2 separate regions of the Homo sapiens genome follow, and region 1 is linked to region 2. Evidence: fine-mapped QTL for protein levels in blood plasma. A gene starts in region 2. The other region holds a variant in brackets. All regions are shown on one strand. Distances are from middle to middle.

Region 1 (15,584 bases), 230 kb after region 2:
GGGTCTTACTTCTTATCCTATTTTCAACCTTTACCTATGGTTCTCTTTTCCCTTTCACCCTTAATTTTAACATATTCTGTGTAGCTGTTTAACTATATATCCTAATAGCTGCCTTAATTCTTTGAAAATGACAGGATGTTAATAAATACTTTACATTGAAAGCAATGAGAAGATATTGAAAGATTTTAAACAGAGTAGTGGCAATATAAGACTTTACTTAAGTAGACGACACTGTGTGGAAGGCCGGGGAGGACGCAAGCAGCTGGAGAGAGGGAGAGCAGTTATTTTTCTATAAATTCATGCAGGAAATGCTGTTGGCGTTTACAGTGTCTGAGGAGAGGCAGCTCTGGGTTATGTGAAGTGCAGAGTGTGGCCATGCAGTGGGTCACTCAAGTACCCAGCTTGAAGAAATAAAAATACATAGAATTAAAGGAAGTCAAGAAGGCTTGGAAACATGAACACAGGCATCCCAAGTTAATGGTAGGACCGGGAGGACAGCAAGAATTGGGACATCTTAGTGAATGTCAGGGAGGAGCAAGGCGACCAAGTCCTCAGTGAATGTCATGGGGAGTTTGCAGTGATACAAGGGGAATAATCCTGAAAGGAAATAAAAGGAGATAAAAATATCCACTACTCCTTTCTCATAGTCCTGTGGTATCTGAGAATAGAATATCAAATAGTCTTCCCCTGTGGGTGCTGAAAGGAGATTATTCCCTTGGAAAAGCCAGATTTATGTATTTATTTAAGATTCAGGGGGTACACATGCAGGATTGTTACAATACATACACTGTGGGATGCTGAGGCTTGGGCTTCAGTTGAACCTGTCACCCAAATAGTGAACACAGTACCCAATAGGTAGTGTTTCAACCCTTGCTCCACTCCCTCCCCACTTTTGGAGTCCCCAGACAATATCATGCCCATCTTTACATCCATGTGTACCCAATATTTAGCTCCCACTTATATAAGTGAGAACATGTGGTATTTGGTCTTCTGTTCCTGCATTAATTTACTTAGGATAATGTCCTCCAGCTACATCCATGTTGCTGTAAAGGAGATGATTTCGTTCTTTTTTATGGCTGCACAGTATGCCATCATGTATATGTGCTACATCTTCTTGATCCAATCCACTGCTGATGGACATCTAGATTGATTCCCTGTCTTTGCTGTTGTGAATAGTGCTACAATAAACATATGAGCGCAGGTGTATTTTGGTAGAACGATTTGTTTTCCTCTGGGTATATACCCAGTAATGGGATTGCTGGGTTGAATGGTAATTCTATTTTTGTTTTTTGGGAAATCTCCAAACTACTTTCCGCAGGGGCTGAACTAATTTATAATCCCACCAACAATGTGTGAGCATTCCCTGGAAAAGCCAGAGTTAAATTAAGATCAATTAAGATCAAGAATTTAGTGAAAAGATATTTATAGTCTTCATACTTTGTATTCAGTAAAAAGATAAAAGGTGTGGGATGATTTATTTAGATGGAATGGAAATTCCAAAGGATCAGGGACAGGGTTAGGTGGGGAGTGCAGCAAAGGGGAAGAAATGCAGGGCAGTCTGAATGAGTGCAGGCAAAGTCGCATGGCCGAAGGGCCACACTGGAGGCCACAGTGGCTTAGGCCCTAACTGGGTTAGGTTAGGGGCTAGGATTACAGCTGGAACTCTGGTCATGAACATTTCAGAATGAAGCAGCGAGTGGTGTTGAGGCTTGACTGTGTTGCTGTTTATGGTTTACTAAGGAGACTGTGTCGCTTCGTTCCATATTTCAAATAAACTAGTGATGCAGATTGTCTTGGGACTCAGGAAAGCTTAGCTCAGTGGGTCTGTTAGGCCAGCACCAGGCCCACCAGTGGGTATGTAAGGTCTCTGGCAGCACCATGGGGAAGCTCAGACAGGCCTGTACCCCACAATCCATCTCCTGTACCTAGATGGGTGGTCAGGACCTTGGCAGGGTGTAAAGGCAGACGTTCACAGACCTCTAGCACACAACAGAATCTAGTGAATGAAGAAGCTTCTCTCCCCAACAAGTGTGAAAACAGTGATGTGAGAGCCACAGCGCCTGAAGAGTTCAGAGGAAGGGAACCACCAGCTCTCTGTGTGCCAGCTAGCCCCTGGGTTGCGGGCTTTACACATGTTATCCCATTAATTCCAGCCCCACGAAGTTAAGTGTCACACTTAACTTGGTAGGGGATGGAAATTTGGAGAGATGGCACATGAAAGCTAGTAAGTGACTGAATCAGGATTCAAAACCATGTAGGTTTAGCTCCGTAGCCCATATTCTTTCCACTATGCCAGGTGGTCTCTGATCTAATCAGTACTTATAGTGATCCTCACCCCATTTTAGCTTTCTGATTTCTGATAACCAGTGGATCCAATTATGTGTGAGGCAGCGTAGCATAATGGTTAGGACATAGACTCTGGGGATCGACAGCCTGGCAGAAAGGCCCAGCACTGTGGTTTGTATTCTGTGGGACTTTGCACAAGTTACATACCTTTAGTTTCCTCATCTTTAAAATGGAGATAATAATAGTACCTCTCCTATATGGTTGTTACAAGGATTAAGTAAGCCAATATTTGTAAAGCATTTAGAACAATGCTTGTTATGTAGTAAATGGTATGTAAATGTGTATTAAATATTAAAAAAATTAAAAATCATTAGATTGACCATGGGAGTCAAAATAATACAAAGGGTTAACATCAATATTGCCACCTGAAATGTACTTCTGCTCCTTACAGGATGAACTCAACTTTGGTTGGTCAGATGGGAAACGTCTTCATTTTAGTCGCTGGGCTGAAACTAATGGGCAACTCGAAGACTGTGTAGTATTAGACACTGATGGATTCTGGAAAACAGTTGATTGCAATGACAATCAACCAGGTGCTATTTGCTACTATTCAGGAAGTATGTGAATTTCAGATCTTTTAATTCTTAAATTATTAACAGTCCCATAAGTGGTAGAATTTCTGAGGAGTGGTTTTATAAAATCTGGTTTTGGAATTGTGAAGAAATTATAGTCATGTCTTTTTATGGCAACATTTGTTGTGAAAATTTGTATTCAAGTAGAATTATATATTACATATATTATTATTAATGGGTCATTTTAGGCATGTTTTATTTTTATGTCAGCTGACAATGGGGATTAACACTTAAAATCCCATTGTTACTCTACCTCTTTCTGCATATATTTATAGTTGTAGAAAGCTTACATTTGTGAGAATTCTTTTGTGATTCATAATATCACAACTAACAGGACTTTTATGAGTCTTAAGATTCACAGCAACCACCTCAAGCTAGCTTAAGACAAGGGGAAATTTAGGATCCCCAAAACGGGGATAGAGCTGAACCTATAACTGGAGATGAGTTGACAATTTCTAAATTTCACTTTGTAAATCCCTAGAGAACATCTCATGAACTTAGCCTGAGTCAGGTGTGCAGTCTCTAGCCCAGTCAGAGGAAAGTGTTTTTACAACTGGCAAGGTCACATTTGTGGGTCTGTGGTAGAAAGAAGACACTGCTTCATGGACAAAGGGACTTATTGTGATCCAGGAGAGATACTGAGTGATCTCTGCCACATATTAAATCAGTTTAATGTATTTGAGTGGAATATGTTTATATTTGTATCTTTGTGAATGTATGGCCTTTTCATAAAATGGAAAAAGATCATAATCAGATACTGTAGATGTCAGATTTTAAATATTATTTTTGTTTGACTTGGTTAAAGCAATAACTTATTTAGAACATCAATGTTTCATTTAAATGTTCCTTTAAAATTAATAGTATCAGTAGACAGAAACTTTAAAATAAATTCTCAGAGTTATAGTTAGGTGACTTTTAATAATGAATATGTTTGTACAGCATCTCTAGGGGTGGTCCCTTGTACTTGACATTTGGTAATGCAGGAAGACAGAAACTGCATTTAACCTAATAGCACCTCATTTTTTACATTCTTCCATGCCACAGCAGGGGTAAGAAAATTGTGTCAAGTAATTTCCTTCCTATAGAAAGCTGGCTTTTTGTGTGCTATATCTGAGTATAAACAGAGACAGGCTTCACCAGGATATTACTTCTCGGCTTCCTGAATATTTCCTACAAATCAAGCCTAATGACTGCAAACAGGATTTAACATTTATATCTCAAATTAGAATTCTTACCATTAACTCTTTTTCTAGATGAGACTGAAAAAGAGGTCAAACCAGTTGACAGTGTTAAATGTCCATCTCCTGTTCTAAATACTCCGTGGATACCATTTCAGAACTGTTGCTACAATTTCATAATAACAAAGAATAGGCATATGGCAACAACACAGGATGAAGTTCATACTAAATGCCAGAAACTGAGTAAGTATTATATTAGTCCATTCTCATGTTGCTATAAGGACATACCCGAGGCTAGGTAATTTATAAAGAAAAAGAGGTTTAATGGCCTCACAGTTCCACATGGCTGGGGAGGCCTCACAATCATGGCAGAAGGCAAAGGAGAAGCAAAGACATGTTTACATGGCAGCAGGCAAGAGAGCATGTGCAGGGAAACTGCCCTTTGTAAAACCATCAGATCTCATAAGACTTACTATCACGAGAACAGCACGGGAAAAACCCACCCTCAAGATTCAATTACCTCCCACCAGGTCCCTCCCATGACATGTGGGGATTATGGGAGCTACAATTCAACATGGGATTTGGATGGGGAAACAGCCAAACCATATCAAGTATATTATACTGTCATTACTTATTGTATTTTGCTAATTAAAAAAATATTTCCTGTGTTATAAATATTTCTAATTAGCACTAGTAACTAGATGACAAAAATATTCATCTCCTAATATCTACATTATCAGTGACAAAGTATTAAAATTTGTGTTAGTTAAAATGGAAAGTATAGGCATAACTCCTTTCTTTACTCTTCCATTCAAGAACTAGTCTATGTTTGTAAGGAAGGCAGGTTCTCCTTTAAAAGGAAAAGAAATGGGCTAGGCACACTGGCTCATGCCTGTAATCCTAGTTCTTTGGAAGGCTGAAGTGGGAGGATTGTTTGATGCCAACCATTCAAGACCAGCCTGGGCAACATAGTGAGACTTTCTGTCTGCAAAAAATTAAAAGCATGGTGGCACATGCCTGTAATTCTAGCTACTTGGGAGGCTAAGGAGGGAGGATCTTTGAACCCAAGAGGTTGAAGGTGCAGTGAGCTGTGATTGAACCACCTGCACTCCAGCCTGGATAACAGGTGACCCTATCTCCAAAAAAAAAAAAAAAAAGGAAGGGGGAAAGAAATGACACACAAGAGAGCAGAGAACTGGACATTAAATCAAGCTAGGCTATGGGGAAGTGAAAATAAGTTAGTTGGAGCAGTCAAAAGCTTAGATACACCACAAGGCAGCAGCTAAGCTTAAAGAAGTGCACATTTCACATTTTCAGCTCTCAAGAGTCTTCAGATAATTCCTATGAGATCCACTAAGGATTTGTGACTTCCAAATGATGGAACTGTTGGAACCAATGGAACAATGAACTTAGTGAAAGTTGCTATAGAAAATATCAAACCAGTATTTCCCAAAGCATGCTCCGTATAACATCAGTCTTGAGAGATGGTCTGCAAAAAGTCCTTAGAATAAGGTTGAAAAAAATAACCAACAAAAAAGAAAAAGGTTGAGAAACACTAGACACCATAGCTTCCTGTTGGACATTAACAAATGTACATTAACATATGCCTTAAGAAATACTGGCATAAACTAGTTTAATTTTGTTTAAACCAATGTTTGCAAACTTTTTTTAAAATCCATGTAGATCTTTTCTGAAACTTCCTTGTTAATTTTGTGAGGAACACCCTTTGGGAAATATTAAGCCTTTTTAACCCTCATACTGAAAACTAAGGAAAAGGAAGATCTGTCGTATAGCCCAGCAGTCCCCAACCTTTTTGGCACTGACAGGGAGGGGTGGATGGTTTCAGGATGAAACTGTTCCACCTCAGATCATCAGACCTTAGTTAGATTCTCATAAGGAGTATGTAAGCTATATCCCTCGCATGCATAGTTCACAAGAGGGTTTGCACTCCTCTGTCAATCTAATGCCACAGTGCTCTAACAGGAGGCAGAGCTCAAGCGGTGATGCTCGCTTGCCTGCTGCTCACCTCCTGCTGTATGGCCCGGTTCCTAACAGGCCCGGTTCCTAACAGGCCTGGTTCCTAACAGTACCAGTGTGTGGCCCGGGGGTTGGGAACCCCTGTTATAGTTCATCTAAGAGGTTCTAATTATTATAGCGTAATCTTTGACAGTATATCATTACTATGGGTGGATTTATACCAACTGAAAAATTACCTTTAAATAGGGGAAAGTGAAGTGAATCAATGTTTTAAATTCTCTACTCAGCTACTAGTTTTCTATTATACCATAAGACCAAATTTAACATCAAAACATTTGAAAACTCCTTAACCTATTAATTTTAGTACAATGGGATAATTTTATTTTACATATGTTTCTAATTGTCCAATATTGTTTATATTTTGAAGTATATTAAACTGAGAACTAAAATGTTTTAAACTTATCAAATAGAAGTGTACTAGATAAGTAATTGTTAAAATTATTGATTATTTTTTATTCAACAGATCCAAAATCACATATTCTGAGTATTCGAGATGAAAAGGAGAATAACTTTGTTCTTGAGCAACTGCTGTACTTCAATTATATGGCTTCATGGGTCATGTTAGGAATAACTTATAGAAGTAAGTTGTAAATCTGCCAACTTTCTCTATTTGTTTTTGTACTTCATTATAACATAATTATCAAGCCATAGTTCTTCAAAGTACATGTCTATCAATACGTGAAAGTATAATTATGTACTTAGCATAACTTACATAAATACCAAGACAGTTTTTATGTCTCTGCTCTGCCTTTATCATCGAGTTTAAAGTTAAATGGCGGAAAATAATTTTCTGAATTAGTTTGTTCCCGCACTGCTAAAAAGAACTACCCGAACCTGGGTAATTTATGAAGAAAAGAGCTTTAATTGAGTCACGGTTCCACAGGCTTTACAGAAAGCATGGCTGGGCAGCCTCAGGAAACTTACAATCATGTCAGAGGCGAATGGGAAACAAGCAGGTTTTACTATGGTGGAGCAGGAGAGAGAGTGAAGGAGGAGGTGCTACACACTTTTGAACAACCAGAACTCATTAGAACTCACTCACTATCACGAGAACAGCAAGGGGGAAAATCACCTCCCACCAGGCCCCTCCTCCAAGACTGAAGATCATAATTCAACATGAGATTTGGATGAGGACACAGAGCCAAACCATATCAATTTTCTTTTTTCACTCTTTTATGTAGCAACTCAAGACTAACTAAAAATGATCACCATCCCATATAAATCTTCAATACTTATTTTTTGTTTCCACTAACTATGTGAGATGAGCAAGAACAGAATCACTCTATTAGTGTTGCAGTTTTGGGTTTATAACCCTGGCTTAGTTTATACTGGCCCACATATGATAAGCATTAGAAAAATGAGACACATGGCCAGGTGTAGCGTCCCACGCCTGTAATCCCAGTACTTTGGGAGGCCAAGGCGGGTGGATCACCAGAGGTCAGGAGTT[T/C]GAGACCAGCCTGGCCAACATGGTGAAACCCTGTCTCTACTAAAAATACAAAAATTAGCCAGGCATGGTGACGTGTGCCTAGTTACTTGGGAAGCTGAGGCAGGAGAATCACTTGAACCCGGGAGGCAGAGGTTGCGGTGAGCCAAGATGGTGCCACTGCACTCCAGCCAGGGCAACAGAGACTCAAGACTCCATCTCAAAAAAAAAAAAAAAAGAATAGAAAAATGAGACACATGGTCTGACAATGGGCTCGAATATTTGGAATTTGGACTAAATACCACCAATCCAAAATATGATTGATAACAAAATTTTTTAAAACAGTCTAATATAGAGGAAACAAGGTCTTGTTTCTAAATGCTTCTGAGCATTTAGAAAGATGCTCAGAAATGTCCTGAAAATCATAGACATTTTGGAATTAGGAAAACCTTTCCACGGCCATAGAGCATCAAAAGCATACATTTACTCTAAAGAGGGTTTGATAAGGGGCACAGGACAATGATAACCAGGGGTAGGGAAGGAAAAGAAGCTAAATTACTCAAATCTGCCTGTTTTAAAAATAGGCTTCTCCTTTGCTCTCTAACCCATCTGTTTCTTGGGGTTACCAATGTTTTCCTGAAATGTTTATGGTTGGCAGAGGGGTTAATGGAAATTAAACTATCAAGCAATAGATAAAGACTTGGTTTACCAAGTGAGGATAAGTTCATCATAGTAGGACTTAGTTGGCCCAAACCTTTTCTCTGATGACACTTAACTACCCTTGAATTAAAATGGAGAAAAACTAGCTGGAAAATTCTGAGGCTTCACCTGAAAGTGACTGAAGAAACAATGGTCTTGTATTGAGCCATAGAGACCACACCCAGGACAGAGAGATTGAAATTGTACCCTTTGGTATACTTTGTAGTTATATTATCAGAAGCAACTGAAAATCTATTATAAATTCTGAAAAAGCATTTTTAGATCAGAAGACTCCCTTATTGTTTTACCTTCTTTCATAAAATGTTTGAGTAATAAAATTTCTATTAAAATATACAGGCATATGAGGGACATATAGAAAGACATTTCAGGCAAATGGCACATTTGATTTGAATCTCATTCTTACTGACTTAATTTACATCTGTAAGTTACTGTTTTGGGTTACTTTGATATACTTATATTTAATTTTTTGGCCCCTATACAAGGAATTCTGTTTTTAAAACAGCTTTGACTTTTCAATAGCAGGGCCATGAATAGAAATCACTGTAAGTCACTGTTTTTGGTTACGTTGATATAGAATATTTAATTGTATTTGGCACCTACCCAAAGAAGTTTGTTTTTTTAAACATTTTTGATTTTTCAATAGCAGGGCCATGAATAGAAATTACTATGAGAAGCCACAGTATGTCAACTGAGAGATACATTAAGCCAAGTGAAAAAAGTGACTTTTTCTTAAAACAACTTTAGAAATCTACCATTGCACATCATATTGGTCAGAAAATTGATAACTTTGAAGTTTAGGAGAAGGGAAGAGGAACTGGAAGGCATGAGATGATATAAAGCAGCAAACAAGAACCAAATCGTGTGTGCAGTGCTTCTAATGTGTCATTGCTGCAGGCAGATGTTTAGGGGTCTTGCCTTGGGAGATGGTAATCAATGAAGACCAGAAATAACCAGGACAACATTGGGTGTGTGTAGGTAGTGATGGCATCAATCTTTATACCAATTTATAATTGTAATATGCCTAGCACCTTTTTTTAAAGCTTTATTGCAATCATCACTACCCCAAAAAGAAACACAATACCCACTAGTATTCCCTCCCTGTCTCCTAGTCCTCAGCAACCACTGATCTACTTTCTGTCTCTACAGATTGCCTGAATGTAAAATTCTGGACATTTTACATAAATGAAATCATACCATGTGTGCTTTTTGCGTGTGACTGGCTTTTTCCATTAAGCATAAAGATTTTAAGGTTTATCCACATTGTAGCATGTATCAGTACGTTATTCCTTTTTATGACTGAATAAAATTCCATTCTATGGATATAATACATTTTATTTATCCATGTATCACTTGATGGACATTTAGGTAAAACAACCTAAATTTTAAACCATTTTTAATTATTATGTATAATGCTTCTCTGAACATTCACGTACAAGTTTTTGCATGGACATATGTTTCCATTTCTCTTGGGTAAACCCCTGGGAATAGAATTGCTGCATCTTTTGTTTAACCCTTTGAAGAACTACCAGGTTGTTTTCCAAACCAGCTATACCATTTTCCATTCCCGGTATATGAGAGTACTGATTTCTCCGTATCGATGCCAACATTTGTGTGTTTTTCATTATAGCCATCTAAGTGAGTGTGGAATGATATCTCACTGGGATTTTTATTTCATTTCCCTAATGGCTAATGATATTAAGCATCTTTTCATGTGCTTATTGAATATTTGTATATCACCTTTGGGGAAATCCCTATTCAGATTTTTTGCTCATGTTTTAAATTGAGTCTTTTTATTGTCGAGGGGTAAGAATTCTTTATATATTCTGGATATAAATACTTTCCAGTATTTATATATAAATATATAAATAATTTCCAAATTATTTTAAAATTTATATAAAATATAAAATTTTATATTTCTGGATATAAATAATTTCCAAATATTTTCTCCCATGACTTTACTTATGCCACAAAAGTGTTTTTCTTTTTTTTTCTTCTTTTTTTATTGTACTTTAAGTTCTGGGGTACATGTGTAGAACGTGCAGTTTTGTTACATAGGTATACACATGCCATGGTGGTTTGATGCACCCATCAACCCGTCACCTACGTTAGGTATTTCTCCTAATGTTATCCCTCCCCTAGCCCCCTACCCCCCGACAGGCCCAGTGTGTGATGTTCCACTCCCTGTGTCCATGTGTTCTCATTGTTCAACTCCCACTTATGAGTGAGAACATGCGGTGTTTGGTTTTCTGTTCCTGTGTTAATTTGCTGAGATTGATGGTTTCTAGCTTCATCCATGTCCCTGCAAAGGACAGGAACTCATCCTTTTTTATGGCTGCATAGTATTCTATGGTATCTATGTGCCACATTTTCTTTATCCAGTTTATCATTGATGGACATTTGGGTTGGTTCCAAGTCTTTGCTATTGGAATAGTGCCACAATAAACATACGTGTGCATACATCTTTATAGTGGAATGATTTGTAATCCTTTGAGTATATACCCAGTAATGGGATTGCTGGGTCAAATGATATTTCTAGTTCTAGATCCTTAAGGAATTGCCATACTGTCTTCCACAATGGTTGAACTAATTTACAGTCCCACCAACAGTGTAAAAGTGTTCCTATTTCTCCACATCCTCTCCAGCACCTGTTGTTCCTGACTTTTTAATGATTGTCATTCTAACTGGCATGAGATGGTATCTCATTGTGGTTTTGATTTGCATTTCTCTAATGACGAGTGATGATGAGCATTTTTTCATGTGTCTGTTGGCTGTATAAATGTCTTCTCTTGAGAAGTGTCTGTTCATATCCTTTGCCCAATTTTGATGGGGTTGTTTGTTTTTTTCTTGTAAATTTGTTGAAGTTTCTTGTAGATTCTGGATATTAGCCCTTTGTCAAATGGATAGACTGCAAAAATTTTCTCTCATTTTGTATGTTGCCTGTTGACTCTGATGATAGTTTCTTTTGCTATGCAGAAGCTCTTTAGTTTAATTAGATCCCATTTGTCAATTTTGGCTTTTGTTGCCGTTGCTTTTGGTGTTTTAGACATGAAGTCTTTGCCCATGCCTATGTCCTGGATGGTATTGCCCAGGTTTCCTTCTAGGATTTTTATGGTCATAGGTCTTACATTTAAGTCTTTGATCCATCTTGAGTTTATTTTTGTATAAGGTGTGAGGAAGGGGGGTCCAGTTTCAGTTTTCTGCATATGGCTAGCCAGTTTTCCCAACACCATTTATTAAATAGGGAATATTTTACCCAGTGCTTGTTTGTGTCAGATTTGTCAAAGATCAGATGGTTGTAGATGTGTGGTGTTATTTCTGAGGCCTCTGTTCTGTTCCATTGGTCTATATCTCTGTTTTGGTACCAGTACCATGATGTTTTGGTTACTGTAGCCTCATAGTATAGTTTGAAGTCAGGTAGCATGATGCCTCCATCTTTGTTCTTCTTGTCCAGGATTGTCTTGGCTATCCGGGCTCTTTTTTGGTTCCATATGAAGTTTAAAGTAGTTTTTTCCAGTTCTGTGAAGAAAGTCAGTGGTAGCTTCATGGGGATAGCATTGAATCTATAAATTACTTTGGGCAGTATGGCCATTTTCACGATATTGATTCTACCTATCCATGAGCATGGAATGTTTTTCCATTTGTTTGTGTCCTCTTTTATTTCCTTGAGCAGTGGTTTGTAGTTCTCCTTGAAGAGGTCCTTCACATCCCAGGTAAGTTGTATTCCTAGGTATTTTATTCTCTTTGTAACAGTTGTGAATGGGAGTTCATTCATGATTTGGCTCTCTATTTGTCTGTTATTGGTGTACAGGAATGCTTGTGATTTTTGCACATTGATTTTGTATCTTGAGACTTTGCTGAGGTTCCTTATCAGCTTAAGGAGAATTTGGGCTGAGGTGATGGGGCTTTCTAAATATACAATCATGTCATCTGCAAACAGAGACAATTTGACTTCCCCTCTTCCCATTTGAATGCCCTTCATTTCTTTCTCTTGCCAGATTGCCCTGGCCAGAACTTCCAATACTATGTTGAACAGGAGAGGTGAGAGAGGGCATCCTTATCTTGTGCCAGTTTTCAAAGGGAATGCTTCCAGTTTTTGCCCATTCAGTATGATACTGGCTGTGGGTTTATCATGAATAGCTCTTATTATTTTGAGATACGTTCCATCAATACCTAGTTTGAGAGTTTTTAGCATGAAGGGGTGTTGAATTTTGTCGAAGGCCTTTTCTGCAACTATTGAGATAATCATGTAATTTTTGTCATTGGTTCTGTTTATGTGATGGATTATGTTTATTGATTTGCATATGTTGAACCAGTCTTTCATCCCAGATATGAAGCCGACTTGATCCTGGTGGATAAACTTTTTGATGTGCTGCTGGATTCGGTTTGCCAGTATTTTCTTGAGGATTTTTGCATCGATGTTCATCAGAGATATTGGCCTGAAATTTTCTTTTTTTGTTGTGTTTCTGCCAGGTTTTGGTATCAGGATGATGCTGGCCTCATAAAATGAGTGAAGGAGGAGTCCCTCTTTTTCTATTGTTTGGAATAGTTTCAGAAGGAATGTTACCAGCTCCTCTTTGTACCTCTGGTAGAATTCAGCTGTGAATCTGTCTGGTCCTGGACTTTTTTCGGTTGGTAGGCTATTAATTACTGCCTAAATTTCAGAACTTGTTATTGGCTTATTCAGGGATTCAGCTTCTTCCTGGTTTAGACTTGGGAGGGTGTATGTGTCCAGGAATTTATCCATTTCTTCTAGATTTTCTAGTTTATCTGCATAGAGGTGTTTATAGTATTCTCTGATGGTAGTTTGTATTTCTGTGGGATCAGTGGTGGTATCCCCTATATCATTTTTTATTGTGTCTATTTGATTCTTATCTCTTTTCTTCTTTATTAGTCTGGCTAGTGGTCTATCTATTTTATTCATCTTTTCAAAAACCAGCTCCTGGATTCACTGATTTTTTGAAGGTTGTTTTTTTGTCTCTATCGCCTTCAGTTCTGCTCTGACGTTAGTTATTTCTTGTCTTCTGCTAGCTTTTGAATTTGTTTGCTGTTGCTTCTCTACTTCTTTTAACTTTGATGTTAGGGTGTTAATTTTAGATCTTTCCTGCTTTCTCTTGTGGGCATTTAGTGCTATAAATTTCCCCCTACACACTGCTTTAAATGTGTCCCAAAGATTCTGATATGTTGTGTCTTTGTTCTCATTGGTTTCAAAGAACATCTTTATTTCTGCCTTCATTTCGTTATTTACCCAGTGTCATTCAGGAGCAGGTTGTTCAGTTTCCATGTAGTTGTGCGGTTTTGAGTGAGTTTCTTAATCCTGAGTTCTAATTTGATTGCACTGTGGTATGAGAGACTTATGATTTCCATTCTTTTGCTTTTGCTTAGGAGTGTTTTACTTTCAATTATGTGGTCAATTTTAGAATAAGTGCGATGAGGTGCTGAGAAGAATGTATATTCTATTGATTTGGGCTGGAGAGTTCTGTAGATGGCTATTAGGTCCACTTGGTCCAGAGCTGAGTTCAAGTCCTGAATATCCTTGTTAATTTTCTGTCTCGTTGATCTAATATTGACAGTGGGGTGTTAAAGTCTCCCACTATTATTGTGCAGGAGCCTAAGTCTCTTTGTAGGTCTCTATGAACTTGCTTTGTGAATCTGGGTGCTCCTGTATTGGGTGCATATATGTTTTGGATAGTTAACTCTTCTTGCTGCATTGATCCCTCTACCATTATGTAATGGCCTTCTTTGTCTCTTTTGATCTTTGTTAGTTTAAAGTCTGTTTTATCAGAGATTAGGATTGCAACTTCTGCTTTTTTTTTGTTTTGTTTTCCATTTGCTTGGTAAATATTCCTCCATCCCTTTATTTTGAGCCTATTTGTGTCTTTGCACATGAGGTGGGTCTCCTGAACCCATCTCATCTGAACAGCACATTGATGGGTCTTGACTCTTTATCCAATTTGCCAGTCGTGTGTTTTAATTGGGGGCATTTAGCCCCTTTACATTTAAGGTTAATATTGTTATGTGTGAATTTGATCCTGTCATTATGATGCTAGCTGATTGTTTTGCATGTTAGTTGATGCAGTTTCTTCATAGTGTGAATGTTCTTTACAGTTTGGTATGTTTTGCAGTGGCTGGTACCGGTTTTTCCTTTCCATGTTTAGTGCTTCCTTCAGGAGCTCTTGTAAGGCAGGCTTGGTGGTGACAAAATCTCTCAGCACTTGCCTGTCTGTCAAGGATTTTATTTCTCCTTTGCTTATGAAGCTTAGTTTGGCTGGATATGAAATTCTGGGTTGAAAATTCTTTTCTTTAGGAATGTTGAATATTGGCTCCCACTCTCTTCTGGCTTGTAAAGTTTCTGCAGGGAGATCTACTATTAGTCTGATGGGCTTCCCTTTGTGGGTAACCTGACCTTTCTCTCTGGCTGTTCTTAACATTTTTTCCTTCATTTCAACCTTGGTAAATTTGATGATTATGTGTTTTGGGGTTGCTCCTCTCGAGGAGTATCTTTGGGTTGTTCTCTGTGTCTTCTGAATTTCAGTGTTGGCCTGTCTTGCTAGGTTGGTGAAGTTCTCCCAGATAATATCCTGAAGTGTGTTTTCCAACTTGGTTTCATTCTCCTCATCACTTTCAGGTACACCAGTCAAACGTAGATTTGGTCTTTTCACATAGTCCCATATTTCTTGGAGGCTTTGTTCATTCCTTTTTATTCTTTTTTCTTTAATCGTGTCTTCTCTCTTTATTTCATTAAGTTGATCTTCAATCCCTGATATCCTTTCTTCCGCTTGATCAATTCAGCTATTGATACTTGTGTATGCTTCACGAAGTTCTCATGCTGTGTTTTTCAGCTCCATCAGGTCACTAATGTTCTTCTCTACACTGGGTATTCTAGTTAGCAGTTCCTCTAACCTTTTTTCAAGGTTCTTAGCTTCCTTGCATTGGGTTAGAACATGCTCCTTTAGCTCGGAGCAGTTTGTAATTACCCACCTTCTGAAGCCCACTTCTGTCAATTCATCAAACTCTTTCTCCATCCAGTTTTGTTCGCTAGCTGGTGAAGAGTTGTGATCCTTTGGAGGAGAAGAAGTGTTCTGGTTTTTGGAATTTTCAGCCTTTTTGCACTGGTTTCTCCCCATCTTTGTGGATTTATCTACCTTTGGTCTTTGATGTTGGTGACCTTCAGATGGGGTCTTTGAGTGGACATGCTATTCTTTTCTGTTTTTTAGTTTTCCTTCTAACAGGCCCCTCTGCTGCTGGTCTGCTGGAGTTTGCTGGATGTCTACCCGACTCTGTTTGCCTAGTTATCACCCACGGAGGCTG
Region 2 (15,584 bases):
ACTCTCTCAGTTACAATTTCGCAATGGTGGTTCTGTAACTTTAAATAATGACAATCACGGTTTTTGTAAATACTCTAAGTAAATGACAAAAAAATTATTAGGTAAATATAATAGGATAAATACTTGTAGACAAGCTCATCATAATTTAGAATCTAAAGTTATATCAAATTAAATCACATATATTTTATTATTTGGGTATTTTCCAATAAAAATATATTTGTAGGAAAACATTCAAAACAAATGTGTCCTTTAAAAAAAAAGGTGAACAATTTTTATCTAATTCAAAGCTTATTTAAAGGTCATGTATAAAACAAGGTAAAAGGAACCAGGAAATAAAAGAGATGTACAGAAAGTTATTAAAATAAAGAGGGGTTTTTTTGTGAGAAAGCGTAAAGGGAAATAATTTCATATGAGAAAGAATCTCGTATGGTAAATTTAGTCCTAGAGTAAAATGACTAGTTGCTTAAGAAAGAGGGATGTTCAAAACAAACCAGAAAGTACAAGCATGTCATGAATGGTCTATGTAAGTCACAATAAGAGGATTTATTTTTTTAAAAACCAAAAACTTTTATATGATCAAGTTGTCATATTATTATTTAAGTTTTGGGTTGCTTAGGAAAAAAACTGAGATTAAAATTTTTTAATTAAGGTTATTACATCCATCTATCTTTCATCTCTCCATATGCACTTTTAAAATACTTGTGACACTGAGTTACAGGGCTTTGACTCCTGGGTCTAAAAAGGACAACAACTCCTACTACATTTTAAACACTGACAGCAATTAAAGCCCCATTTTCAGGCCCTGTAGGAGATGCCAATCAAAATAAACTGCATTCCTAAGACACAGGACCAGAAATTAAAGCTATTTCAACTCAAGGCCCAGGAACTATCATGGAAAAGGTGGGCATGTGAGATTCTAAGGGCTGATTTTGAAAGATAAAATAAGTTCAGTTTCTCTAAAAAGTAATAATTAATGTTAAAGGCGCAGTGATGCAAGACTAGCATATTGGCCCCTTTGTCAAATTAACAAGGTTTTCTTGAAGCATTAACTGACTCCTCAATAAAGGTTATAAAAGGCTTATGGAAGTTGTATCTTACGGTCAAGATTAAAATTTTATAGATCATTTATAAAATTTCAAAAAACAAATTTAATTGGCTTCATGCTGTTTTTATTAGAGCTTATTGTTTGGAATGTCAAGTCTCCTTTCTCAAAGAATGAAGGTTTTTGCCTTTTTAAATCCTTGAGTTATCACTTTGGTTAAATGAATGATCTTATTTTGTGATATCAAGGGCTTTAAACCTTTGATATTTGATGAACTTTCCAAAATCAAATTATAAATTATGTCTTTTTCTAACCTAATCAATCCTTTAAGATATTAAGTTCCTTAAAGTTCAAAGATGACATAGTTTGGTTTGTCTGGTATAAATATTATACAGGAAACATTGTCAAAGATGAAATGGTGTTTGGTTTTCTTTAGGCTGTATTTATATAAATATATGGTATCTGTTCCAAAATCATGGGAACTCCTATAATTCTGATATGACTTACTGTATATTATCAGTAATACTTATAATTGTTATGTTAAATTATTGTGTGCCACAGATGTAACAAATTTCCTTGTCAATTGTGTCTTTGACCATGGCTGCCCTAAAATTTTTTGTCATCCACAGACAATTGTTGTCTTGTTTTGGTCCTCTTTAGGAGGTGGTTTTCTAATCTGCTATAAAAGTCTAACAGGTGTTCTTAAATGCCGGTTTCTGATAACTTTGGAGATTGTGACATTAGAATAGAGGAAAAACTTTCAGGACTCTCATGGAGAGCTAAAATGTTCATGAATATCAAGCAGAACAGGAGTTAACTATGTAAACTGAACTGATAGAAGACTAATTTTTTGATTTTTGCTTTAAATGTTGCTGATCCTTTGTTCTGCTTTTTTCAGAGTCAAGGAAACTTTTCTTTTGAGCTATTGACAGCTTTAACAATTTAGTATACTCCTATGAACACAATTTGGAGCATATCTGTTTCCCTCTACCTGATTTCTCCAGAATTTGGAAACTATCTGTGAGTATTCTTAACTTATGGCAATACAGTTATTTGCATAACTGCAATAAGAATCTGTTTTCATTTTGCAACAGGACGCAATTGGAGACATTGGTTATTTTACCAAGGCTTTAATGGTGTGCTTTCCTTTAAGGAATCAAACTTGACTTATGGAGTCAATAAAAGCCCTTGGGGAAACTGGTCTCATACCTTCCCTGTACAGGGTTCCTGACCTGTGGTAAGTAAAGAATGTTACTTTCTGACAGGCCCAGGAGCTCCAAGTTTATCTTGGAACCTCAAGAGGAAAGGATCACCCAATTCACAGGTATTAGGTGGCACAAATTCACGGCTGGGCTCGGCTTTAAAAAAGTCTTATCTGAGATTCCTTCTATGGAATAAAGTCCCACCAAAGACAATTTAAAAGCCTATGTAAAAAAATAATTATTCTTGCTGCACAGTATGCAAATAATTAGGATAAGTATAATAAAGCAAATCAGTCCTACCATGATTTGTCTTTAAAAATGGGAAACTGGAGAGAGAAAAATTATGTTTCAAAAACTGTAGTACACCTGTTGTTAGATTCTAGTCTTGTCTGATGTTTTTCAGTTTTATTATTTTCTACAGTTTGGACTGAATTCTAATTTTTTTTGGCTATAAGTTTTCAAAATAATGTTTTTAATTTTTTTTCCTTTTCCCCCCATTTTTCCTAATTTGGAGTCACTGAAAACAAAGCTGTGCTTTTGTAAAGCTCTGCAAACTGAAACTAGACAACTTGAACTTCAGAAGAAAATAACAGCAAAACCTATTTACATACATAAGCCACTTTCATACCTGCCTACTGATGTATGGACTTCAGAGTAATGTGGTCTACATTGATTTTCCAAAATATTTCTTTTGTTTATTGTTGTTGTTCTCCCTTCCTCCCCCTATTTTCTCTTCATAGGACATGAGACTTTACAACTTTCTAAAAATGAGCTTTCCTAATAACTCAGGACCTACCTGTCTAGGAATAAATCATCCTAGCCATGAGATATCAGATAAAAGACTAAACCTGGAACCAGAGACTAATTTGCTCCAAACGATTTATTTTTTTGAGACAGAGAATGCACCTATCATGCAGGCTGGAGTGCAGTGGCATGATCTCAGCTCACTGCAATCTCTGCCTCTCAGGTTCAAGCGATTCTCTTGCCTCGGCCTCCTGAGTAGCTAGGATTACAGGCGTGCACCACCACACCCAGCTAATTTTTGTATCTTTAGTAGAGACGAGGTTTCACCATGTTAGCTAGGCTGGTCTTGAACTCCTGACCTCAGGTGATCCACGTGCCTCAGGCTCCCTTAATGCTGTGATTACAGGTGTGAGCCACCATGCTCGGCCTTCAAAAGATTTTTCAAAAGAAAAGGGGGGAAATGCGAAAGAAAAATATCTTGGGCCCCCCAAATCATTAAGCTAAAGGGAAAAGTCAAACTGGGAACTGCTTATAGCAAACCTGCCTCCCATTCTATTCAAAGACTTCTCACCAAGATAAACGCATATCTGATTGCCTGCTTTGGAGAGGCTAATCAGAAACTTGAAAGAATGCAACCACTTGTCACTTATCTACCTATGACCTGGAAGCCCCGCTCTCCACTTCAAGTTGTCCCGCCTTTCCAGACCAAACCAATGTTCATCATACATACATTGATTGATGTCTCATGTCTCCCTAAAATGTATAAAACCAAACTGTGCTCTGAACACCTTAGGCACAGGTCATCAGGACCTCCTGAGGCTGTGTCACGGGTGTGTGTCCTCAACCTTGGCAAAATAAACTTTCTAAATTAACTGAGGCCCATCTCAAATTTTGGGGGTTCACAGTCCCTTGGGTAAACATTCAACAAACCAGGACCTCACCCTTTCTTGCTGATACCCTGATTCATACAGTGCTCAAAAAGTTTTGTTAATTTTGACAAACCGCAACCTATACATTGAGTTTTAAATCCCATTTTCTTTACTGTCAATACCATTCAAAGTTTTAATATTTTTCTCAAGTTTCAAATCACTCCACACACTGTACAGTAAGTCTTCACTTAACACCATGGACAGGTTCTTGGAAACTGCAATTTTAAGTGAAATGACATACAGCAGGTCCTCAAACAACATTATTTCCTTCACTGTGATTTCATTATGACATTGATGAGAAAAAGAAAATTGGTTTCATTATATGCCATTTTGCTTAAAATCATAGTCTCTAAGAACCTATAGATGACGTTAAGTGAAGACTGACTTCATTTCTTTCAACCTCTTTCTTTTCCTCCCTCATTCCTTCGCTCATTCAGCAGAGACTGAGAGATGACTAAGTGCCAGGAAGTGTGCTGCCCTGGAACTCACATTCAGGTGAGAGATATAAATAATGAATTCCAACTCCAAAGGAGAAGGGAAGCAATGGGAAGCTGTACAAAGGCCAGCAGGCACTGAGCCCTCCCTGCTGTGTTCCCCAGCTGAAGTCCAGAGCCATAATTACCACTAGCACAGTGCTCTGTAGCATGGCTTCTGAGCTCTCCTTTGCTCTTGCTCTCTGCTCCTCACTCCCTCCCCACACACCCACAGCTCCCAGAGGTGAACTTTACAGTGTGTTAGCACTGTGCTAGCACTCTGCATACATTAGCTCATTTAATGCAACCACACAATGAAGCAAACATTATTATCTCCATTTTACACAGAAGGAAACTGAGGCTGGGGCAAACTAAGTGGTGTGCTGGTAAGTGGCAGAGCTGCCTCATTTAACCATGACCCTACACTGCCTCATGAACCTGAAACACACGTGAGCCCAGGATATGGGTGCTGGTCATTTTCTTGAAGGTTAAAAAGCCCTTTACCACAGATTTCCATTTCAAAGCTGCAGTGTTTCAGGAAGAGATTTTTTTTAAAAAAAGAAAAAGTAGCTCTTTTCTGAGTGTTCTAATGGTTGAATAGAAAATACGGGGTTGGTAGGCCAGGAAGCTGTCAACACCTCTCTTCATTATACTAATTGCTCTGAAGATGAAATAAGGTTTGTTTCTCCCTTCTTATCCTACTCACAGACCTAGCTCTGCTACTTCAGAATAGCATCTGCTATGGGTCAAGGGAGGCATTTTCCCCCCTCATTATACAGAGACTAAAACAGGACCATAGCACGTGAATAACTCACCCTGGTCCACAGCCAGTGAGAGGTAGCCCAATGTCCCAGCAACTGTCCTCATTCGTCAGGGTGCCCCAGTGGCTGCCTTTATTTCAGCCAGGCATGCCTCACTCTCTCCCATACAAGCAGTTCTCACTCCAACCTTTGTATAATTTTTTTTTTCACAATTTCTTCCCATCCTAGAACAGCCTCTTCCTCCCAATACCCACCATACTATCTGAGCATAGTTAGGCCTCTATGCCCACTCCAGCCTAGTCTCTCTCCCCTTTACTCTCACTGCCCTGGACCTCACCAGAGATTAGCATCAGTGTCCTGTTTTATGACCTAATTATGTCATGTGCATTGCACTTGCCTGCTGCAATACATGCCAGCCTGCTCGGGCAGGGCCAAATCTTCTATCATAATACTACGGGGATATTCCCATAGCAATGTAGTTCTGAGGCCATAGGAGAGATGGATACATAGTTTGTGGCTGAAGTCTGTGTAATCTACTAGGCTTAAAGCATCTCTTTTCTGCATGTTTTCAAGCAAGGATGCTGAATTCTACATGTAATGATATGTTATAAACTCTACACACATTGGAACCTCTCACATCCTCTCAACCCACCTCTTATTCCAGCCCCCTCTGCAGCCTGTTTCCCCCGGCTGTCCCCCACCCCCCAACCCTCTGAGAAACAACCTGACAGCGCCTCACCTTTTGCCATGCTATGCACCCAGGGCTTCTAAGAGACAAGGTATGGGACCATGACTGAAACTCACCACTGCTGTAGAACAGTGCAGAGGAGTTAATAACCCTAGGATCTCCCTTACCAACAGGGAAGGATAAAGTCCATGGATAAACGCTTGCCCCTTTTGTCCTCGACAGACAGTTCTGAGGCTCTCTGAGGTTCCTGCAGGACTGAGCACCTTTTGTTAAGGCCATGGCCAAGGCAACCACTTTCCCTTCTTCCCCATTTGGCTCTGACCTTCAATCTTGCTCCCTGCTAGGCATTTCCTTCCAGGCTCTGCTTTCTGCCCCTCCCCTCCCCCTCTCTTATGTTTTAATGACTAATGTCAAGGTCCCGCTGAGGAAAGGTCTTATATGAGCCTGTTCTCAGAATATTAAACGCTTCCAGTGTTCTGCTGGTTATTTGAAGGAGGACAGTTAGAACGACTACATTCTAGCCAGGGCTGTCCTACTTGCTAGAGAGTAACTTTTGCTGGATTAGGAAGTAACCTAGAGCAAAGCACTTCGACTTTCTGGGCAGGGTTTCTCAGCTGTAAAAATGGGATAATAGGGACCCCGGCTACTTTGCGGGGCTTGGGGGATCAAAGGAGTTGGAAAGAGGAGGTTATTTCAAAACCGAAGGAGCTGAATAGAAGAATCTCCGGGTTACTCTGGGGCAAGGAAGGTGGAGACCACGGCGTGGCCCCTCAGGTGTCTCCAGTGCTCCACAAGTCAAAGGAGTCCAGGACCCTCCCAAAGCGCCTGCGTCGCGGAGCAGCTGGGTTCACTCTAGGCTGCCCGCTGCAAATCCGCGGTGTTTACCAGAATCCAGGTGGTTTGCAAACCCGGATGTCAGGCTCCTTGTCCCGGAGATTCTCAAATCGCTCACCCACAACTCCTCTTCGGCCTCCCCCAGAAAGGAGAGAGCAGGGCTGCAAGCTAGAGGAGCGGAGAGTGTGACCCGAGCAGCCTCACTCCGCCTGTCCCCACCCCAAAGGCAGGAATTTCTGGGATGGGCAGATGGCCCACCCCTCCTCCTCCTCCTTCCCCAAGCCGCAGTGGGTGGGGCGAGGAAAACCTCCGCGACTTTCCCGCATCCCAGCCCAGAGCCCCGAGTGTCGGTTCACTGTGGAGACAGCGGTGGCGGAGTGGGTCTCCAGGGCTCTGGGCTGGCAAGGCCCCCGGAGGGGGTGGGGCGCGGAGGAGGCTACGGATCCGCTTCCGCGCGGCGGGGCCGGGTGCTTGGGACGCGGCTCTGGGCTCCCGGGATAAGGGGCTCCCGGGACAAGGGGCTCCCGGAGAGCCCAGTGGTTAGCGATGCTGCTGTCGCCGTCGCTGCTGCTGCTGCTGCTGCTGGGGGCGCCGCGGGGCTGCGCCGAGGGTGTGGCGGCGGCGCTTACCCCCGAGCGGCTCCTGGAGTGGCAGGGTGAGTCTCCCAGGGTCGGGGACTGGATCGGTACGTTGGGGAGGGGGGTCGGGGTGGTCGAAGGAGAGGAAGAAGGGGCGAAGCTAGGGGCCAAGCTGGCGGGCAAGGGCGGCCGCGTTTGTAGGGGTTCGTGTGTCAGCAGTCCTGAGCATGGGGGGAGCGGGTGGTGTCCTGCAGCCTCTTGTCTAGGCCCAGCACCCCACTTGCGCGGCCCGGCACCCTCCTGGCTCCTGCGGGGGTCGGGCGGCGGGGGCGGGGGGGCTTGGTCTCGCAGGTAACTCCTCTCGGCTCTGGCGCCCGGAGCCAGCCCGGGATAGGAGTGTCGGAGAAGTTTCAAAACGGAAACTTTCTGAGAGCTGCTTATTTGGGACGGATAAATGATAGCAAAAAGATGGCTCAGTTCGTCCCCTTGCAAAGCAAGCGCTCAGGGTCTGCGTCGCCACCTAGGAGTGACCCCCAAGCCAGGCCTCCCCAGTCCATCCCTTCCTTAAGGAAAACTTTTTTTGTTTGTTTGTTTTTTGAGACAGGGTCTTGCTCTGTCGCCCAGGCTGTAGTGTAATGGCGGGATCTCGGCTCACTGCAGCCTCCGCCTCCCGGGGTCAAGCGATCCTCCCACCTCAGCCTCCCGAGTAGCTGGGACCACAGGTGTGCGCCCGCACGCCCAGCAAAATTTTTGTATTTTTGGTGGAGACGGAGTTTCACCATGTTGCCCAGGCTGGTCTCCAACTCCTGGGCCCAAGTGATCCGCCCACCTCGTCCTCCCAAAGTTCTGGGATTACAGGCCTGACCCACCGCACCCCGCCTGAAAACATCAGGCCAGGTGAGGGAGAGAAGCCCCAGTGGCTCCATGAACTGCGTGATCTGAAGCCTTTATGCCTTAGTCTCTCTCAGTGGAAAAACGGGGTTCAATTCAGCAAACACTTATTGAGCACCTACTACACATGAGACTCAGAAGGTTGTGTAAAGAGAGGGAGGAGAGATTTCTGGCCTGCAGGGGCCCGCATTTGAGAATGGGCCACCTCAGGCAGAGAAGCCTGCGCCTAAGTGCAGAAGTCCATATATGCAAGTAGGAGGGGGACAGGAGGGAGTTAAATATGCCAGGAGGAGCCTCCAGACAGCCTCCATCCTCTCTGCCTTTGGAGATAAGTTTGGAGAGAAGGGGTAACACAAGATGTGATCAATATCTGCGTTCACATTTTTTCCTCCACAGTAGAATATGTCTACATTTTTGAGGTAGTCTTTTCTAGACTGTGTTTCCTAAGCTCCCTGGAGGCTTAATCAGGGGCAGGTAGAACAAGACCATTCTTATTCTAAAGTGACCAAAGTCAGAGATGCTCTTACCTTCTTGGTCAATTCAGAAAATTGCTCCTGTGGATGCACATCTGATCCTGTAGTATGTATGATTCCTTCCCACTAAGTTTACCATGCAGTGGTTATTCCTTTGCATTTTAAAATGTGGGTTTTGCCTGGGCACTAGGTGGTAGAACAGGGCAGCAGCCCACAGGACAGAAGTTGGACTGGGCCACACAGAGAGTATGTGCTGGTGATCCTCCGAGTGAAGGGCTAATCCCTTCTATATGTAGCAGAACCAAATACTGGCCTGAGACAAATTCTCATCAGTGCCTTCTTTTTAGTAGTCAAGGGCACTCTGAAATTAGAGCCATCTGCTAGCCCTTGTACCTACTAGGTGCAATTTGCACATCTGAAAAGGTTGACATAGTTGGCATAGAGATTCTTCAGATATGAAAATGCTGCTGCTGATTTTCCAAGGAGCACGGAGGTTATGTACCATTCCTCGCACAGGCACAGGCTCTCTCCCTGACTCCAGTCACCTGCATGAGTAGAATTTCAAGTGTAAGCTGGACAGGTTTGAAGTCAAGTTTTTACTGTCAATACAAAATGGAAAAACAAAATCTTAACATTGAAAAGAACCTGAGACATTGTCTACTCTAGCCCTCTATTCTTCAGATGTGGAAGTTGAGGTATGGCTACCATGTAGTTAGCCATGCTTTGGGGTGCCTCAGTTTACCGCTGTGTTCACTGTACCACATTGACTCACTTTAGCCACGATTGACATCCACAGAGCAACTGAGAGAAAAATGCACACTCATTTTCATTTCCAATCCACTAATAATGGCTATGTAATAATGCACAGCAGATTATACATACAGCATTTTTTATCTGAATTGTTTGATATGTATTATTTGTAGATCTGATATGTATTACAAGCATGCCAGCCTTGGGAGGCAGATGATGGATTGTACTGTGATGATTTTCCAATGATTTATCAATAATTCTTGATATGGTTTGGCTATGCCCCCACCCAAATCTCAACTTGAATTGTATCTCCCAGAATTCCCACGTGTTGTGGGAGGGACCCAGGGGGAGGTAATTGAATTATGGGAGCCAATCTTTCCCATGCTATTCTCGTGATAGTGAATAAGTCTCACAACCTCTGATGGGTTTATTAAGGGTTTCTGCTTTTGCTTCTTCCTTATCTTTCTCTTGCCGCTGCCACGTAAGAAGTGCCTTTCGCCTCCCACCATGATTCTGAGGACTCCCCAGCCATGTTGAACTGTGAGTCCAACTAAACCTCTTTTTCTTCCCAGTCTTGGGTATGTCTTTTTCAGCAGTGTGAAAATGGAGTAATACAATTCTGTATTCAAAAGTCAGTAGATACAGTATTATATAGTAGTTAAGTTCTCGGGCTTCAGAGCTAGACGATCTGAGTTCAAATCCTGACTATGCCATTTACCATCCGTGTGACCCTGGACAGGTATTTTGCCAGTCAGTAGCTCAGTTTCCTCATCTGTAAAATGGAGCTAGTAATAGTACACATCTAAGTGTTGTCCTTTTGCTGCTCTCTCACCATGGCACCCTCTTCCTCTGGCCAATCCAGACATTTTGACAGGTTGACAGCCCCATAACAATTACTTACTACGGTGCACAGCACTGTACTTGGCAGGTCTGAAACTCATCTCCTCCTACCTCTAGCTCAGGCATCCCCAACCTCCAGGCCACCTACCAGTTTGTGGCCTGTTAGGAACTGGGCCACACAACAGAAGGTGAGCAACAGTGAACAAAAGAGGCTTCATCTGTATTTACAGCTGCTCCCCTTCCCTCACATTACTGTCTGAGCTCCACCTCCTGTCAGACCAGTGGTGGCATTAGATTCTCAAAGGAGCATAAACCCTATTGTGAACTGTGCATGTGAGAGATCTAGGTTGCGAGCTCCTTATGATAATCTAATGCCTGATGATCTGTCACTGTCTCCCGTCACCCCAGATGGGACCGTCTAGTTGCAGGAAAACAGACTCAGGGCTCCCACTGATTCTACATTATGGTGAGCTGTATAATTACTTCATTATATATTACAATGTAATAATAATAGAAGTAAAGTGCACAATAAATGTAATGCACTTGAGTCATCCCAAAACCATCCCCCACCCCACCACCCCATTGGCCTGTGGAAAATTTGTCTTCTGTGAAACCAGTGCCTGGGGCAGAAAAGGTGGGGGACCTTTGCTCTAGCTGGTTATTCCAAGGAGCCTGATTTTAGTTTGTTTTCCCTGATCAGAATCTGAGCCCTTCTTCTAGCAAGTGCTAAGACACACTAACTTCACTCACTCAAGTACTCCAGATACAAAGTGGACAGCGGGGAGAAAGAAGAAGGGGATGGAGCATCCTGGTGAAAACTGGGCATAGTCATTGCTAAAGGAAATGATCAGGGGGCAAGTAAAAGGGTTTTGAAGCTTTGTTGAGGGTTGAAAAATGATAAATGTGAAATGGTCCCCCACTAATATATCGTAGGAGAGTTTCCTTCTGTAGTGCTCAGCTTCCCAGAGCAGGAGTGGAAAGAACCTAAGTCTGTGTCAGTGCCTGGGGACACTCAGGGGAGGCTCTTCTAAATGACCAGTGATCAAAGGAGGTGAGGGTGCAGATGAGTGTGTGGTCAGTGTGCTTGCCATCAGGTCCTATCTGGGGAGAAGAAAGTGAAACAGGGTTGGGTGTACGGGGTGTCTCTCGACATGCTGCGCCGACGGAAAGAGGGGTAGGGGCTGATGGCCTCAGTTGTTCATTATCTGTCAGGCAATATGTGCTTTATCTACCTGTTTTAGTTGGGTTCATCCAAAAGCAATTCCTGAGACATGTTTTCCTTAGGGTGCAAGTAGTTTTTTTTTTTGGAGGTGATTCTAGAAAGCATGGTAAGGGAGTGAGGACATGAGACCAGAGAGGGAAGAAAGCCACCACAGACCACTGGGGCTCAGTTTCACAAAGGACCCTTTGAGGAACTGTATAGAACTCAGTGGACCCACCAACGGGCAGGAAGCTGAAGTATTTATCCACCAACTCCCGCCTCTTATTGACTAAGGTCACTCCTGGGGCATTCACCCCCTGGTGCTCCTGGTCTCTCCCAGGCAGAGAGCCACAGAAAGTCAGTGGGAGTGCACGAGGACTGTCTGCAGGTGAGTGAGCTCCAGGTTAGAGGGTGTGAGAAGGAAACCAACAGAATCTGCTACCCACCTCCAGATTGGGGAGGTAAAAACATGAGTAGGATATGACACTGGCCCCAAGAGGCTGAGAGTCCAGGGACAGATACAGAAACATAAACAATTACAAAACAGTGAGAGAGGTCTTATGATAACCAGGGATGAGCAAAGTGCTGAAGGCATGCAGAGGAGGCACTGGCCTGGGGAGCTGGAGGCTCATAAAAAGACATTTGTTTTCCTAAAGGATAAGTAGGCAGTTACCATATAGGAAAAAGGAGACTGAGCATTCCTGGGAACATGTATTTCATGTGCAAAGGCCCAGGATCACGTGTCAGGCAACAGTAAAAGTTCAGTGAGCTGAAAGTTCCCTTCTGAGCTCTTTTGGATTCAAGGAAAGAGGCCCACTGAAGGTCACTCAGGCAAACGTGGAGTTGGTTGTAATGGTCCCAGGATCTCAAGGGGGACCCAGGACAGGTTCTTCAGGGCAGCCAGGCCTCCTGGGAAACAGGCACTGGCCACTGACATGAAGCATTACTTTATCTGTTTCTCTCTGTCTCTGGGGCTCTATGGTGGTTCCTGCTTGGTTGTTCTTTCTGTTGACTGTTTCTTTGGCTTTGACTAGTAGGACTTTCCTCTGTAGCTCCCTTAGCTTCCTGGGAAGAGTCCCTTAATTTCCTAGGAGAGGGGTCTGGTTACATTCTTCACAGCATGCTAGCTAGTTCCTGTGCTCTGCCCTCAAGTCGAAGGCCTTCCCCTGGCTAATTGGCCATGGTAGAGGCAGGAGGTGGACACAGGGATGGATGCTGCTTCATCCAGGGCTGTGGATGGTATAGACCACCAGAGTAGGGTCCCAGGCAAAACAAGAAGCAGTGACATGTCTATAGTTGGAAGCATGAGAGAGATGAGGAAGAGTTTGGTTGGAGGCACCCTGCTTCTGGAAAAAGTCTGGCTGAGTGAATTGGGTACTGCTGAGAAGGGCCCTGTGGGTTTGCACAAAGGGGAACCAGATTGCATGTTTAAGTTTAGAAGTGCCATGTTCAGTCTGGGACTTGAAGAGGGTCTCCTATCACCTTGAAGAGGGTAATTCTGGAAGGCAGCAAAGAAACCGTCTGGATAGTTAAAGCTGAGCTAAGTCAGTCCCAATAGGAAGATTGAGGAGCAGAAAGTTTGGGTTCAAGAAACAGGGTTTAAAAAGAGGAAAATATATATTTAAAAACAACAACAAAAGAAAACAGTTAGTGAAAGTTAGATGAGGGAAGATTGCAGAATAGGAGAGGTAGTGGTTATAGAGTGCAAAATCCAAGTTTTGGAGATGGACCTATTCTTGGTAGTGACCAGATCCAAGCTGTGTTTGTGGGAGTGGTCACCAAAGTGAAGAAGAGGCAAAAGAAGGTCCTCACAGCAGAGGAGGTCAGGGAGCCCAATGTCCAGAGCAAAGCTAAAGTCGAGTAGAGTTTGGGACTCTTTTGTCAGCAAACCACAATAAGAAATACATTTTACATCACAACCCACAGCATATAGGTCTACATATGTATAACTGAAACAATGTTTCATTTTTTAAAAAATACCCTTACCTAATATGACATGCTGCTACATTTCCCCCTGTTCCATTCTGTTTCGTTTTGTCTCGCTGGTCATAACACATTCAGTTGATTTCAAGACCATAAATGGGCCACAACCTGCAGTGGGGAAAGCATCGAGTCAGAGTGTTGGGTCATCTGTATGGAAGCTAAAGTGGCTTTGGGGTGTGGAGAATAGCGGGGAGTCTGCTGGTATCAAAGCCATGGTGAATGGGGGGAAGAATGGTTCAGGGCAGAGGGCCCCAGTGGCGAGGAAGGGGGGTAGCTGCCACCTTCTGAAAGAGGGCGATGAGAGCCACTACCTGGAGGCGGCAGTGGGGAGAAGCTGTAGCCCTGAGATTTCCTGCATAGCTTCTGTTTCTAATACAAAGGTAAAAATGCCCCTCTACTGCTTCTAGTATTTTCTAACAGCTGGGGAGTCGTTACTCTTTGTTGTTTTATTTACATCGACACATTGTCTCCTCACCAAAACAGGTAGGCAACATTAATACATACCCTTCTTTTACAGATGAAGAAGGGTTAAGTAACTTGTGCCCACAGGAGCTTGCAGCATGGGGATTCGAACCAAGCACTCTGCACTAATGCAAAGGATCCCTGAATAGCCTTGTGACCCCATGGTGTGGTTCATTCTGTATCCTGCTGCATGACAGAAGCATGCGATTTGGTTTCACAGCAGGAAGAATAGGAGGCCAGCCTCTTGTTCTCTGCAACTCCTCCTTTTCCAAACCCCTCCTTCCACATGTGGGAGTGATATTTTCCTAAAGCAGAAATGTGCAAAGCTACTGATTTATGTATTGTTCTAGGCAATTCTGATGTCCCTAGGCAATGAGCCATTCTACTAATCTGGAAACGGAATTTCAGTAAAAGCGTGATCGGATAGTGGTTTAGCTGCCCTTCCTGGCCCTGAATCATGCCAGCCTTCTTGACTCCGTTTCTCCCATTTCTGTTTGTCATCCCTCGCATTTCTTCCCCTTCATACTTTTCTCATCCTACCTTCTCTGCCTGGCTCCTTTCCTGGCAAGCCTTTGTGAGTCAGCATAGATGTCCAGTTTTTCTGGTCCTATTTACTCTTTCTTGTTAAGCCTCTAACTCTTTTCCTATTGTTGGTTGTCACAGTAACTGATGCCACACAATGCAGGTTCCAAGCCCATCACAGGAAAGATGGGGCCACACAGATAGCTTAGTTGTCCCTGCAGCTCCCCTTCTTTGACCTAACAATCTGCTTATTTATATCAAGTTTTCTGAAGAAACGGTCCCCTTGTGTTGCCTCTTCTGAACTCAATCCTAATGCTGCAAATCCTCATGTAATCTATCAAAGTAATTGATTTAAGACATTTATAAACCCTTCCCTCCATTTTTTTTTAGAAATTATCCTTGAGAGCCTTTTGGAGATGTTCCAACACATAGCTAGGAGCATAAATTATATTTTGAATTGATCAAAGCAAAAAGAAATATTATTGTTCATAAAATAAACAAAAGAACACCATATAAACACTATATTAAGTCATTTAGGGAAAAACATTTTATAAAGCCACTCAAGAAAATTAGAAAATTATGATTAGAATATCTGTAACTTGGGTTCTGTGACACAGAGCTAAACAAGACAGAAAAGTCATAGCCACTTGGCTTTTTAATTTATGATACTTTTTAGACAACTACAGTTCCAAAGAAATATGGAAATAAAATAGTGTTACCACTTCTAGCTTTTGGTATTCTGCTCTTGAGAACTTTTCAATCATGAAAATATAAACAGGAAACTCAAAGTAATTATTTAACTATACACATTTTTTCATTTTGCTGCTCTTTGGCACCATTCATATTCAAAGTTAAGATTGGCTTTTATTTTTATTAATATTTATAAAGTGATCATCATGACTGAGATAATCCCTATCAAGGCCTTGTGAGGCCAGCACTATTATTTTTTTCTTTTTATTATAAAATTTAAACTTTTTGTAAAGAAGGGGTCTTGCTATGTTGCTCAGGCTGGTCTCAAACTCCTGGTCTCAAGCTGTCCTCCAGCCCCGGCCTCCCAAAGTGCTGGGATTACAGGTGTGAACTACACACCCAGCCCCAGCATTACTATTAAACCCATTGTGCAGATGGGAAAACCAAGGCAGATACTCTTCTGGTTTTAAGCAGTTCTGCCCTGAAAGAAGTGCTCGGTAGTTTGCCAAGGTCTTTTTTAC

What was found. PIP is the posterior inclusion probability: the model's chance that the variant is causal. Protein levels are from the aptamer-based SomaScan assay of Sun 2018.
Region 1: its variant is fine-mapped to the plasma level of the PLA2R1 protein (Sun 2018, PIP 0.95).

What each region holds. Positions count from the first base shown.
Region 1 is chr2:159,822,799-159,838,382 of GRCh38, reverse strand. LY75-CD302 (LY75-CD302 readthrough) reads left to right here. Exons shown (of 38, transcript NM_001198760.1): 26 at 2,738-2,903; 27 at 4,172-4,339; 28 at 6,597-6,713. It overlaps LY75 (lymphocyte antigen 75), which reads left to right. Exons shown (of 35, transcript NM_002349.4): 26 at 2,738-2,903; 27 at 4,172-4,339; 28 at 6,597-6,713. Among named protein-coding and RNA genes, the nearest start is that of CD302, 32 kb to the right of the region's middle. The variant T/C (reference allele first, on the strand shown) is at 7,581.
Region 2 is chr2:160,054,039-160,069,622 of GRCh38, reverse strand. PLA2R1 (phospholipase A2 receptor 1) reads left to right here and starts at 7,008. Exons shown (of 30, transcript NM_007366.5): 1 at 7,008-7,328. The coding sequence starts at 7,220. LOC105373717 (a long non-coding RNA gene) reads right to left here. Exons shown (of 3, transcript XR_007087274.1): 2 at 13,393-13,497; 3 at 8,822-9,160. RefSeq lists an enhancer at 13,728-14,409.